Homo sapiens: one gene and its partners. The protein of the gene in region 1 purifies or fractionates together with the protein of each later gene. This does not show direct contact. Each region holds a gene or a part of one and is shown in the gene's direction. Other genes may lie near its edges.

What was found.
Region 2: the proteins of KIFBP (region 1) and KIF1A purify together in Homo sapiens (affinity purification with mass spectrometry; 2 studies listed by BioGRID and IntAct, with this or other methods). This does not show direct contact.
Region 3: the proteins of KIFBP (region 1) and PUS7 purify together in Homo sapiens (affinity purification with mass spectrometry; one large-scale study listed by BioGRID and IntAct). This does not show direct contact.
Region 4: the proteins of KIFBP (region 1) and KIF13B purify together in Homo sapiens (affinity purification with mass spectrometry; 2 studies listed by BioGRID and IntAct, with this or other methods). This does not show direct contact.

The regions. Positions count from the first base shown.
Region 1 is NC_000010.11:68,998,803-69,002,302, forward strand, and holds part of KIFBP (KIF-binding protein), read left to right. Parts: intron 1-1,621; coding exon 1,622-1,720; intron 1,721-3,500. UniProt on the Homo sapiens protein: Activator of KIF1B plus-end-directed microtubule motor activity. Required for organization of axonal microtubules, and axonal outgrowth and maintenance during peripheral and central nervous system development.
Region 2 is NC_000002.12:240,722,720-240,726,219, reverse strand, and holds part of KIF1A (kinesin-like protein KIF1A), read left to right. Parts: intron 1-815; coding exon 816-949; intron 950-2,183; coding exon 2,184-2,245; intron 2,246-2,661; coding exon 2,662-2,807; intron 2,808-3,500.
Region 3 is NC_000007.14:105,459,772-105,463,271, reverse strand, and holds part of PUS7 (pseudouridylate synthase 7 homolog), read left to right. Parts: intron 1-521; coding exon 522-651; intron 652-3,500. UniProt on the Homo sapiens protein: Pseudouridylate synthase that catalyzes pseudouridylation of RNAs.
Region 4 is NC_000008.11:29,071,071-29,074,570, reverse strand, and holds part of KIF13B (kinesin-like protein KIF13B), read left to right. Parts: intron 1-2,254; coding exon 2,255-2,951; intron 2,952-3,500. UniProt on the Homo sapiens protein: Involved in reorganization of the cortical cytoskeleton. Regulates axon formation by promoting the formation of extra axons. May be functionally important for the intracellular trafficking of MAGUKs and associated protein complexes.

The DNA.
Region 1 (3,500 bases):
TCTCAATCTGTAGCCCAGGCTGGAGTGCAGTGGCACGATCTCGGCTCACTGTAACCTCCACCTCCTGGGTTCAAGCAATTCTTCTGCCTCAGCCTCCCAAGTAGTTGGGATTACAGGCATCTGCCACCACACTCGGCTAAATTTTTTTTGTATTTTTCAGTAGAGATGGGGTTTCACCACGTTGGCCAGGCTGGTCTCGAACTCCTGACCTCAAGTGATCTGCCTACTTCGGCCTCCCAAAGTGCTGGGATTACAGGTGTGAGCCACTGTGCCGGGCCCATATATATAATTTTTTGGTTTTGGTTTTGTTTTTGAGACAGAGTCTTGCTCCATCACCCAGGTAGGAGTGCAATGGCACGATCTCGGCTCACTGCAACCTCTGCCTCCCAGGTTCAGGCAGTTCTCGTGCCTCAGCCCCCCAAGCAGCTGGGATTACAGGTGCACGCCACCACTCCTGGCTAATTTTTATGTTTTTAGTAGAGATGGGGTTTCACCATTTTGGCCAGGCCGGTCTTGAACTTCTCGCCTCAAGTGATCTGCCTGCCTCGGCCTCCCAAAGTGCTAGAATTACAGGCGTGAGCCACCATGCCTGGCCTATTTCTTTTTTTTTTAAAAAAAAAGTTCTCTGGAAGAGCATAGTATTTTGAAAGTATTATATGTTTCTGATCCATCTTTGTCTATTATCTCAGAATCTCACCATGGCTTAGCTGATTGTTCCTTACTCAAAGGCCCACATCATATTGTTGACCTGCTGGGGCTCGCAGTAATACTTGAAGACTGGGACGCCGGGAGGATCCATTTCCAACTTACTCACATGGTTGTTGGCAGGATTCAGTTCCTCACAGGCTTTTTGACTGAGGGCCTCAGACTGTTGACCTCTCTCATTTCCTTTCCATATGGGCTTCTCCATAGGGTGGCTCACAACATGGCAGTTGGCTTCCTTAAGAAGGAGCAGGCAATTGACCGGGCGCGGTGGCTGACGCCTGTAATCCCAGCACTTTGGGAGGCTGAGGTGGGTGGATCATGAGGTCAGGAGATTGAGACCATCCTGGCTAAAACGGTGAAACCCCGTCTCTACTAAAAATACAAAAAATTAGCCGGGCGTGATTGCGGGCGCCTGTAGTCCCAGCTACTTGGGAGGCTGAGGCAGAAGAATGGTATGAACCTGGGAGGCAGAGCTTGCAGTGAGCTGAGACCATGCCACTGCACTCCATCCTGGGCGACAGAGCGAGACTCCGTCTCAAAAAAAAAAAAAAAAAAAAAGCAGGCAATAGATAGCATCCAAAATGGAAATCAAGGGTTTTGTTAACTAATCTTGGAAATGACTTTCCATCACTTCTGTGATAGTCTAGTCGTGAGAAGCACATCACTAAAACCAGCCTGTACTCAAGGGGAAGAGGTTACCTAAGAGCATGAATACCCCGAAGCAGGGATCATTGGGGGTTAATTTTAGCAGCTACCTGCTGCACTACATAAGGTCAATATCATTGTGAATAATTAATTCATTGGTAATCCAACTCTACTATTTGGTTGGTTATAAGTATTGACTTCAAAACTATGAAAGTTACTTTAATTGGAAGTCTTATATCATTGTTTGTTTCTCTTTTTCTTTATTTTCCAGAATAACCTGGGTATCTTGTGGTCTGAAAGAGAAGAAATTGAAACTGCACAGGCTTACCTAGAGTCATCAGAAGCACTATATAATCAGTATATGAAAGAGGTATGTTACATGTCAGATGAGTTTTAAGTTTTGATTGAAACTAGTTAAGAATTGATAGTAAGAATCCCTCATTCGTAATATTGGTGTGACTCTTCACTGTGCCCTAGAACTTCTCTATAGAGCCATCTGGGAAGTCACCTCATAGCTGAAATTATTGCATATTAAAGACTTCAGGGTTTTAAAAAAATAATCCTTGTATAGGACATAATGGCCACCTAGTCTAAATACAATTATAAAGGAAATATTATTCTAGTGTTATCCTAAAATACTATTTGCATGTTTTTGTATTTATAATCTAAACATTCTATTTTAGTTTTCCATGAAAATAGCACTACTTGAAGGAAACAAGAACTACTTTAACAAAACATCTGAAATCTTTGAAGCAATGGTTCTCAAATGTTAGCACCCATCAAAATCTGGAGAGCTCATGAAAGCACAGCAGACTGGGCATCCAGGCTCTGATTTAGTAGTTCTGGGGTGGGGCCTAGGAATTTGCATTTTTAATAAGATCCTGCCTGGGTGATGCTTAAATGCTGCTGGTCTAAGTACTATACTGTACTTTGAGAACCACTGCTTCAGGGCAATGGTTTTTCAATGATTTTTTTTTTTTTTAACCCGTGAAACCCTTCTGAAAATGCAGCATATAAAAATTGATTGAGTTACTCTGGTTAAGCAGGTTAGAAGGACCCAGAGCCCACTCCACTACAGATTCTTCCTCCTCCCCACTGCAGTAGCACAAAAGAGATGCTGTAGAACTTTTAGGGGTCTGGGGAGCCAACATTGAAAACTCTCACTTTAGGGGTCACAGCCTGCAAAGGTGACAAGCCACTGTGTTACCATCTGTTTCCTTAATAAACTTTTTTTTAATATGAAAGGGAAATAATCAGGCACAATATTTTCTTGTGGATTACTATTTGTCACAGCTATCTGCTTTAAAAATCCATTAATACGGCTGAGCATGGTGGCTCATGCCTGTAATCCCAGCATTTTGGGAGGCCGAGGCAGGTGGATCACTTGAGATCAGGAATTCGAGACCAGCTTGGGCAACATGGTGAAATCCCATCTCTACTAAAAATACAAAACAGCAGGCATGGTGGCGCACGCCTGTAGTCCCAGCTACTCAGGAGACTGAGGCAGGAGAATCGTTTGAACCTGGGAGGCAGAGGCTGCAGTGAACTGAGATCACGCCACTGCACTCCGGCCTGGGCGACAGTGAGACCCTGTCTCAAAAAAAAAAAAAATCCATTAATAAAGTGCTTTTATAACATTAAAAAAGTTGAAATAACATTAGATATCACATAAAAGAGACTAAACATACAAAATTATGTTTGCTAAATTCATGCGTCAGAATGCTTGACTGCAAAAGGATATAAGAAGCTTGGTATGCCTGTAATCCCAGCACTTTGGGAGGCTGAGGCTGGAGGATCACTTGAGCCCAGGAGTTTGAGACCAGCCTGCGCAACACAGGAAGACCTCATCACTACAAAAAATTAAAAAATTTGCCAGATGTGGCACACACTGTAGTTTTAGCTACTTGGGAGATTGAGGCAGGAGGGTCGCTTGAGCCCAGGAGTTTGAGGTTGCAGTGAGCTATCATCGAACCACTGTACTCCAGCCTGGGTGACAGAGCAAGATTCTGTCTTTTTTTTTTTTTTGAGATGGAGTCTCGCTCTGTTGTCCAGGCTGGAGTGCAGTGGCGTGATCTCGGCTCACTGCAACCTCCACCTCTTGAGTTCAAGTAATTCTCCTGCCTCAGCCTCCCAAGTGGCTGAGATTATAG
Region 2 (3,500 bases), on another chromosome or scaffold:
GGGCAGCACAAAAACAGAAGTGTTCCATCCCCACAGCACCCCCAGAGTCTGCAGTACATAGGCCGTGGCCAGACCTGGGCTGTGGCCTCCCTTCCAAGTGCAAGAGGTGACTGGAAGTGTGGGCGTTTCTTGCTGGTCATAGTAGTGAGGGAGAGGGAGGGTGGGGAGCAGTGGGCAGGGGCATCTGCAAGCACATCCCCTCTCCTTAGTTACAGCCGAATTATTCCAGCTTCACATGGGGATGGTGTGACCATCTCACCAGATGGTGGTGAGGTTGCCGTGAGGAGGCGCTGGCAGAGCTCTTCCCAGCGAGTGCTTGGGACTCTTCAGCCATGCACAGCAGCTGCCCCCACTTCAGGAAGACAAAGGGGCCAGCTGTTCAGCAGTTAGCGTGTCATCCACCAGGAAGTCATTTTCTGTGGTGTTTGGGTTAAAATGTGCACATTCAAACAAGACCTGGTTTGATCCTCACAGACATTCCAGGGTCGGGGAGGGGTCACCCCAATTTTATGGTGAGGCAGCTGAGGCCCGAGCAGTGAGCCTATGTCTGGGACCCTCGGGGTCCCCACACATGGAGACCAGTCCCTCAGGCAGCCCAGGGGTGGACAGAGCTGTGGCTACCTGTCCCCAGTGGGGTTTTCTCGAGGGCAGGAGCAGAGACTTTCTCCTGCCTGCGTCCAGGCCACACCTGAGGCCCTGGGAAGGCCCTGGGGCTGCCTGTCGGTGCTGGGCATTGTGCCCCCAGGAGAAGGCTGGAAGGGCACCTGGGCACTCGGGGTGTCCTTGTGCCTGAGTCCTGCTCCCGCCTATCTCAGATGGAGAACTGCACCCAGCCGGCTGTTGTCACCAAGGACTTCTGCATGGTCTTCTATTCCCGTGATGCCAAGCTGCCAGCCTCGCGCTCCATCCGCAACCTCTTTGGCAGTGGGAGCCTTCGGGCCTCAGAGAGGTAAGCTCCCAGGGGTGAGGACCACATGGACTCCCACCCTGGTCTCGGTGCGGGCCAGGCAGGGCTCTGCCTGGCAGCGGTCCTTGGGCCACCCGGCAGCTCACCCTGTGCGAGGCCCAGCCACACTCCTGGCTGGCTCCCTGCGCTCAGTCCCCTCCTGCTCACCCTAGATGAAGACTCTGTGGAGGCCATGGTTCCTGCAGGGGACACTGACACCACTATGAGGGACTTGAGGGCCAGCCTGCAGCGGATGGGAGGAGGGGCAGGCCCAGGGTGCCCACCTGGGGCCTCCTGTGGGTGATCCTGGGGCCACACCGTTCCCCCCCCCCCCCCCCCGCCGCCGGTGACCTTCTTCCCTGAGGACCACGGAACCTGTGCCATGGGACTGACTGCCCACAAGGCACTGAAGGAGGAGCTGGATAAGTGGGCGGTGGCTGGAAGGGGGCTCTGGACACAGCTTCCCACAGGACCTGCTGGGTGGCTCTTCTTGGAGGCTGTCAGCACCTTGGGGAGCCACACACCGAACACCAGGACCAGCCGTGCTTGCGTGCTGAACACGCTCCTGATTCTTGGGGGTGGGGGAGAATGAGCCGGAATGTCAGGGCCCTGACAGCAGGGCTGCCGAGGCTACCGGGCACCCGTGGCCACCTTCAGTGGGTCTCCCTGTGGTCTGCCACATGGACCTGGTGTCCAGGTTCACACTGGGCACAGCTGGGAGGAAAGAGCTTGGGGGTCAGGATCCAGTGTCCTTGAGGGCTGGCTGTGGTCATTCTGGAGGTCACTCAGTAATTGTGGGATGCCACCGACCTGTCTGTGGGAGGGTGGCCGAGGTGCTCTCAGAATCTGTCCGGGGCACAGTGGGGCTGCTCTGTGGGGTATGGGGCCTGAGGGGCTCTCGACGCCGTGGAGGGACTGGAGATGCCAGATGCTGTGCTCATGTTGCCTGTACCCCACTTGGGCTGGGACAAAGTGGAGGCTGCTGTGGGGGCCTGGCCTCACGTCACAGCCCCATGGGCACCTGAGCAAGACCAGCCAATGCATCTTTTCTCTGGGGGCCGGAGGGAGTCTGGGATGAGGACTCTGAACAGGGGCTGTAGCTCAGGGACCTCAACACCCCATCACCCCAGCCAGGCTGACTGTGCGTTTGATAGTGGGGCAAGTCAGCAGCCAGGCTGGCTGTGTGTCCCTGTTGCGGGGCCTGGTGACTGCATGTCACTCCTTCTACTCCCCACAGTAACCGTGTGACTGGTGTGTACGAGCTCAGCCTGTGCCACGTGGCTGACGCGGGCAGCCCAGGTAGGTATCTGCCCTGCTCTCACTGGGTGGGTTCCTGGCCTGCTCAACCTCTGCCCACTTGGGGTGACCACAGCGAAGCTGCCATTTGCAGGGGGATCCCTCACAGAACCCAAGCACTCACCTTGTGGCTTCTGGAGTTGTTCTGAGATGGGAGGAGAGCGAGGGAGGAGAGTCAGGCCTGCTGGCTTCCTTGGGTTCCCAGGGCACAGCCGAGATGGCCATGGGACGCCGGGCTGGATAACTTCCTATGGAAGAGGCCTACATGGCTCTTTGGGCCCCAGGGTGGACCAAGGACCAGGGGAAGCCCATCTCCACTCCAGAGGGGAGACAGCTTCACAGATGGGCGGACCTCTAGGATGGGTGGGAGGAGCAGCCACCCATCAGGTAGGGGTGGAATGTCCACGTGCCCCATGCAGGGATGCAGCGCCGGCGCCGACGAGTCCTGGACACATCTGTGGCCTATGTCCGGGGCGAGGAGAACCTGGCAGGCTGGAGGCCCCGGAGTGACAGTCTCATTCTGGACCACCAGTGGGAGCTGGAGAAGCTGAGCCTCCTGCAGGAGGTGAGGCAGCCTCAGAGGATGAGGCCCGCACGGTGGTGTCCATGTGGCTTTGTGTGCAGAGCAAAAGCTGGAGAGGGCCCAGGGCCTGGTGCCTACTGGGGGGCAGCACAGCTGCTTGGGAGTCACAGCCACCTGCAGGAGGAGCATGTGATGCTCCAGTGTGCACTGCGGGGCTGCGTGGTGTATGACAGAAACATGGCCAGTGTAGCACAGAGGCATGCTCTGGAATTAGCCGAGGAAGACTATCGGGCATATAGACAGAGGCCAGAAAGGGACCCGGAAGGAGAGTCGCGGGGCTGGGCTGCCCTCTGCGGCTTTGATCAGGGAAACCAACATGCAGCATCTAGGCACTGCCTCGGGCCGAGTGTGTGTGTGACACGTGACGCGTGACGTGTGAGATGCGTGAGGCCAGGGCTCTGCCCACCCCTCGGCCCTCTCCTGAGGCCTCCAGCACTGCAAGGCAGCACAGCCCTGCCCCAGAACCTGGCGCGTGAGATGGATGTGTCTGAGAGGAGCAGCTTGCTTGCTGCCCATGAAGGTGGCAGGGCTGGGGTGGGGGCTGAGGGCTGTCAGCCCCGGGGCGCCAGGGTCTGTTCCCTCATTTCACAGCTGAGGGCTGTCAGTCTTCAGTCTTAGCCCAGGGGAGGGTGGGCTCTCCGGGGTCTGCCCAGAGGGTCATGCTGCTGCTGAGGC
Region 3 (3,500 bases), on another chromosome or scaffold:
CAAAGAAGTATTTCCCCATTAATGACTGTGCAAGCAAAGGCTGGAAAACTGTCTCTCTTGAGTGCTATAAAAAAGACTCTACATCAGGTGCGCGGGTGAGCCAGATGGTTTTCCAAGGTCTCTTATTTTTATACATTTATTTATAACTGCCTCTTCCAGAGAGAGTTTGAAGCCTCTGTATATGCTGTCTTCCAACTCTCAGCCCATATAAAATGCAGTTTAGCAACTTTGGATGAAATGGCCTTTTGTAGTTGGCTTGGGAACCTTACACCACAGGTACTATGACTGGTTGCAAAAATAACTGAAAAATTGGCCAAACCAAAGCTCAGTACACCCTGTAGTCCTAGTTACTAAGTCACTAAATTTTGATTCCAGGGAACAGATTTTGGATTATAAATTAAGGTGACTAATTTTATTAGGGCAGTCTAACTGAACTTACATTGTTACTCTCTTTATAATCTAGTTCAGGATAACTTGACTGACAAGCTGCATTTCAACTAACTTTTTGTATTTTATATTAGTTCAAGAAGCCTACAGGGAAATGCTCACAGCTGACAATCTTGATATTGACAACATGAGACACAAAATTCGAGATTATTCCTTGTCAGGGGCCTACCGAAAGATCATTATTCGTCCTCAGAATGTTAGCTGGTGAGTAATCATCTAGAATGAGATAGAACTGAATTACCATATAAGTTGTAAGCTTTTGCTTCACTTTATATAGAGTCATGTACTGCACAAGAATTTTCAGTCAGTGACAGATTGCTTATATGATGGTGGTATCATAAGATTATAACACCATATTTTTACTTACCTTTTGTTTTTTTTTTGGTTTTTTTTTGAGACGGAGTTTCACTAGTCACCCAGGCTGGAGCACAATAGCATGATCTCGGCTCACTGCAACTTCTGCCTCCCAGGTTCAAGCGATTCTCCTGTCTCAGCTTCCAGAGTAGCTAGGATTACAGGCACCTGCCACCACACCTGGATAATTTTTGTATTTTTAGTAGAGGCAGGGTTTCACCATATTGGCCAGGCTGGTGTCAAACTCCTGACTTCAGGTGATCCTCCTGCCCCGGCCTCCCAAAGCGCTGGGATTACAGGCACGAGCCACCACACCTGGCCTTACCTTTTTTCTTTTCTTTTTTCTCTTTTATCTTCTTTTCTTTTCCTTTTCTTTTTCTTTTCCTTTTCTATCTTTTTCTTTTCTTTCTTTTCTTTTTTTTTCTTAATAGAGGCAGGTTCTTTCTGTCACCCAGGCTGGAATGCAGTGGCATAATCATGGCTTCCTGCAGCCTCAAGCTCCTCTGCTCAAGCAATCCTCCCACCTCGGCCTCCCAAAGTATTGGGATTACGGGCATGAGCCACCACATCCAGCCTGTGCCTTTTCTATGTTTAGATGCACAAGTACTTAAACCATTGTGTTACAGCAGCCTCCAGTATTCAGTACAGTAACATGCTGTATAGGTTTGTAGCCTAGGAGCAATAGGCTATAGTCTGTAACCAAGGCGTGTAGTAGGCTATACCATCTGTGTTTGTGTAAGTACATTCTGTGATGTTTACACGGTGATGAAATGCCTGACAAGGGTTAGAACATGTCCCTCTTGTTAAGCAGTGCATGACTGTACTTTTTCAGTGCTTACAACCTAGCATCTAAGTGTTTCATAAGTGTTAGTTATTATTGTTATTACTACTATTGTTACCACTACTGCTACTACTTTGTATTTTTCAAATCATCAAGAAGTAAATGAAGCTAAGCCGGGCACAGTGTCTCATAAGTAAGCCCGGAGACTCCAGAGGCTGAAGCGGGAGGATTGCTTGAGGTCAGGAGTTTGAGACAAGCCTGGGCAATATAGTGAGACCCTGTCTCTAAAAAAAGAAAAGAAATAAAGAAGCTGTTTTGAATATAAACAGTTATGGGAAGTGAGTTCATTTACATTTTATTGGCATCACTGAATTATTGAAGAAATGTGTAGAGTGAACTTTTTTCCTATTTCTAAAAACTTAGATTTGCTTACAGAGCTATCTCTGAGCAAATTACCTTACTTAGAATTAGCTGTGAGTTCCAAACACCGCTCTGGTTGTTTTAATATCATGTTTCTAGAGAGGAAAATATACTTATGTTAGTTCGTTTAAAAATACTTTATTGGAAGCCCAAGGTGGGAGGATCACTTGAGCCTAGGAGCTTGAGACCTGCCTCCGCAACATAGCAAGACCATCTCTACAAAAAATTACAAAAATTAGCCTGGTGTGATGGTGCACATCTGTAGTCCCAGCTGTTTGGGAGGCCAATGTGGGAGGATTGCTTGAGCCTGGAAGGTCGAGGCTGCAGTAAGCTGTGATCACGCCACTGCCCTCCAGCCTGGGTGACAAAACGAAACCCTGTCTCAAAAACAAATTTTTTTTTTTTTTTTTTTTTTTGAGACGGAGTCTCGCTCTGTCGCCCAGGCTGGAGTGCAGTGGCGCGATCTCGGCTCACTGCAAGCTCCGCCTCCCGGGTTCGCGCCATTCTCCTGCCTCAGCCTCCCGAGTAGCTGGGACTACAGGCGCCCGCTACCACGTCCGGCTAATTTTTTGTATTTTTAGTAGAGACGGGGTTTCACCTTGTTAGCCAGGATGGTCTCGATCTCCTGACCTCGTGATCCGCCCGCCTCGGCCTCCCAAAGTGCTGGGATTACAGGCGTGAGCCACCGCGCCCGGCCTCAAAAACAAATTTTAATACTCAGTATTATCTAAAGCTTTATTTGATAATTTTAAAATGAAATCCTGAACTAGTTGCCTATTTCCAGGAAATTATTTTATTCCCTATTTCCTTCTCTTCTCCATCTCTCTTACCTCCTCCTCTCTGGAGTATAGGCAAGAGGTCCACATGGTTGGACTTTGTCTTCCCCACTCCAGAGAACTGTTCCTTCTCAGTAACAAGCTGTTGTTGGTTGTGGCACCCAGTCTGGAGAAAATGTAAATGCCGTAAGTAATTTGATCACAGCTGTGCAAAGTGAAGTTTACTGACTCTCAACTTCATTTAAAAAGAATTGTCGGCTGGGCACGGTGGCTCACGCCTGTAATCCCAGCACTTTGGGAGGCCGAGGCGGGCAGATCACGAGCTCAGGAGATCGAGACCATCCTGGCTAACACGGTGAAACGCCATCTCTACTAAAAATACAAAAAATTAGCCGGGCATGGTGGCGGGCGCCTGTAGTCCCAGCTACTCGGGAGGCTGAGGCAGGAGAATGGTGTGAACCCGGGAGGCGGAGCTTGCAGTGAGCCAAGATCACGCCACTACACTCCAGCCTGGGCGACAGAGCGAGACTCCGTCTAAGAAAAAAAGATTTGTCAGTTGTACATTTTTAAAATTTTAATTATTAATGTGAAGAAATGGGGTTTCACCATGTTACCCACGCTGGTCTTGAACTCCTGGGCTTAGTCATCCCACCTCGGCCGCCCAAAGTGTTGGGATTAGAGGCATGAGCCACCATGCCTGGCCCCAGTTGTGCATTTTTAAA
Region 4 (3,500 bases), on another chromosome or scaffold:
TGGTCAGAGCAAGCCCCTTGCCAGTGAAGGCAGCAGCTTCTGTAGCTCATCATGGTGGTTTTCCAAGCTTGGGCTTTTGCAGAAGTCTCCAGAAATGTCTTCTTCAGTGGCAAGGGTATAATCCATAGATGGCATCTGGGTTTCAACTCACAAATCAACTCCAGTCAAGTGGGGATGGGGCCTGGAGTGCCAGTCTGTGCTTTCCACCATCCTGCTCCCTGCTTTGTTGACTCTGCAGCTCTGCCCCCAGTGCCTGCCTTTTCACTTAGTGCAGCCTTGGATGAGGGCTTTCCCCTCTGGAGGCCTGCTGTAGAATAATGCCATGATCCTTCCAGCCCAGCCCAAGCCAGTGTCTTACATGGAAGCCAATGGGATGATGATACTTGCAAATCTGAGGCATGCAGCTGGCCTCATCCTGGGAGAGCCTGGCCTGGGGAAGTGACAGTGGCTGGCCTTACCCGGGGTGGGGGCGGGGAACAGAAGCCATTTCAGGACCCTGGTTACCGTTCAGATTCCCGGCTCTCATAGTTTTGCGTATTCTCCCCTGTTGGGTCAGTGATATTAAAACTAAAATAGAAGAGAATAAATAAAACATGGACAATGTGCAAAGGAAGAATGATTGAAGGATTGCCTAATCTTTTAGAGTATTTATGCTGGTGACAGTTATTGATCTATTGGATTGAGTAAATTTTGCAGCCTAGAGATTCACCACAAAAATGGGCTGTTAATCTCAAGAGGTGCCATTAATTTCCTACCCTGAAAGTGTGGTTGGTGGGGAAAAGAGGGCCCCTGGAAACGGGAATATAAAGGACAGTTCCTGGGAAAACGCATGATTTATCAAGCTGCTGAGGTAAGCCAAGTAACTGTAAGAGACGTATAGATCTCAGCCGCTTCCCCATTCAAATAAATCCCGTATTTCAAATGGAAAATGACCATTCCTGTAATATAAATAATTTTTCCATAAATATCGGAAAACATATTTCTTCTGGATAGCAGTGCTCTCCACCCCACCAATCTCATTCCCTGTTCCTGCCTTCTCCTTTTCTTCGGTCACTGTGAATAGGAATAGAAAGATGATCTGGCAGCCTCTTCACATGGCTTCAGTTATAGATGAAAGAATGCCCCAGAAACAATAGGATTTGGGCAAGCGGTGGCTGCTCTCCCCCATGAGATGTGGGCTTTGAGTGTGTGTGTGTCCTCTGCCTGGGTGACTCAGACAGAGTGACCGACATGAGGAGAGCTGCTGGCCTCACTTGGTGGCTTCTCCCTGGGGGCTGCTTCCTGGCCTCTCTCCAGGGTCCGAGGCCCCCCCAGCCCCTGACATGGCACCTGCTTTCCATAGCAGCCAGAGCAGCAGCCTTGGAGAGAAAGGGCCACGGCCCACAGGGAGCCTTTGTCCCCTCCTCATCCCCCTCCTCGTCCCCCTCCTCGTCCCCCTCCTCGTCCCCCTCCTCGTCCCCCTCCTCGTCCCCCTCCTCATACCCCTCCTCGTACCCCTCCTCGTCCCCCTGCTGCCTTGCTCGGGATGCCCAGCCAGGCTGCAGGCCCGTGGCTCCTTGTTGGTGCCTGAGCTGGCCAGGCTGTGCTGAGTGTGTTCCGGTCCTCCGATGAGATCATTGTTTAGGTTTTGCCGGACAAAAAAGTGCTCTTCTGGTCTCTTTAGTGACTCAGTCTCTTCGTGAGGTTGGGGGTGGGCAGGGGCTTTGTCTCCATGGGAGGAAAGCTAACTAGCCCTAGCAGGGTTTTAGCGTGCACCTACTGTGTGCTGCCCTCTGTGGCGAGGGGCCTTGGTCTTTGTAGCGTGCTGGCCCTGCATGGCAGGCCCTGGATTCTATTTTGTATGAAAGGTAAAAAGTAGATGGGGCAGGGGCTGTGGCCATGGTCAGTGCTCTTGAGCCTGGGCACACAGCACAGGGCCTGCGGGGTGCACTGTCGGCCCCTCAACCTTTATCACTTTGGAAGCCAGGGCCATGCAGCCCTAAGTGGCAGAACCAGTGTGGGAACCAGGGCCTGGCCGGGTCCCAGCCATGTTCTTTATTTATTTATTTTGTCGAAACGGGGTCTCACTATGTTGCCCAGGCTGTTCTTGAACTCCTGGGCTCAAGCGATCTTCCGTCTTGCCCTCCATAAGCACTGGGGTTACAGGCTGAGCCACTGCCCCTGGCCTCATGCTCTTTTCCAAGTCAAAGCTGCCTGCTTGGTTCGTGTTGGAAAGTTTTCTGTTCTCAGCCCCTGCTTCCCCGTCCTGCTGCAGGCTCAGCCGGAGATGGGCCCTGACGTGCTGGTGCAGACGATGGGGGCCCCGGCCTTGAAGATCTGCGACAAACCTGCCAAAGTGCCTTCCCCACCGCCTGTCATAGCTGTCACAGCGGTCACCCCGGCTCCGGAGGCACAGGACGGGCCCCCCAGCCCCCTGAGTGAAGCCTCTAGCGGGTACTTCTCCCACAGCGTCTCCACCGCGACCCTGTCGGACGCCCTGGGCCCCGGCCTGGACGCTGCGGCCCCGCCGGGGTCCATGCCCACCGCCCCTGAGGCCGAGCCCGAGGCGCCCATCAGCCACCCCCCACCGCCCACGGCCGTCCCCGCCGAGGAGCCCCCTGGCCCCCAGCAGCTCGTGAGCCCCGGTCGGGAGCGCCCCGACCTCGAGGCCCCGGCGCCCGGCTCCCCGTTCCGCGTCCGGAGGGTGCGGGCCTCGGAGTTGCGCTCCTTCTCGCGCATGCTGGCTGGGGACCCCGGCTGCTCCCCGGGGGCCGAGGGGAATGCGCCGGCCCCGGGCGCCGGGGGACAGGCCCTGGCCTCTGATTCCGAGGAAGCTGACGAGGTCCCGGAGTGGCTCCGAGAGGGCGAGTTCGTCACCGTGGGCGCCCACAAAACGGGCGTGGTGAGATACGTGGGGCCTGCCGACTTCCAAGAGGGCACGTGGGTCGGCGTGGAGCTCGACCTGCCCTCAGGTGGGTACCGGGCACTCCGGGCTCCAGGGTGGTGCCGGGGGTCTGGGGAAGCAGGAACGTGGCCGGCCTGGGAGGGGACAGGGTCCGGGCAGGAGAGGGAGGGGCCGGGAGGCAGCGGCTTGGCTGAAGCTGCGGGAGCGGCTGGGCCTGCAGGGGTGAGGCTGGGGGCAGGGCTAGTCCCTGGAGACGACATGGAAAATTCCTGATGATTTTGGCTACAAAGATCCTGTACCCATCCCCCCATCGCCATGGCTGTTCCCGCTTTTGTTCCGGTCTCCCCTGCCCTCTGCACTCCCTGGGCTCTGCTTTCTCATCCTTCACCTTAGAGCATCTCCCCTTTGCCGTTCCAGGAGGCTCTTCCTCACCCCATCCGGACACATCTCGCTGGCCTCTGACTCGCCCTCATTTGGCAGTTTTGCCAGTTTCCATTTCATAGATTCAGCAAAAGAACCATTCTCCCGCCACCCAGCCCAGGCCTGGGTCCAGATGGAGAAGGGTCTGTTCCCGCACGAGGCGGGCCGGTTGTGCCTTAGTGGCTGGCCTGCACCT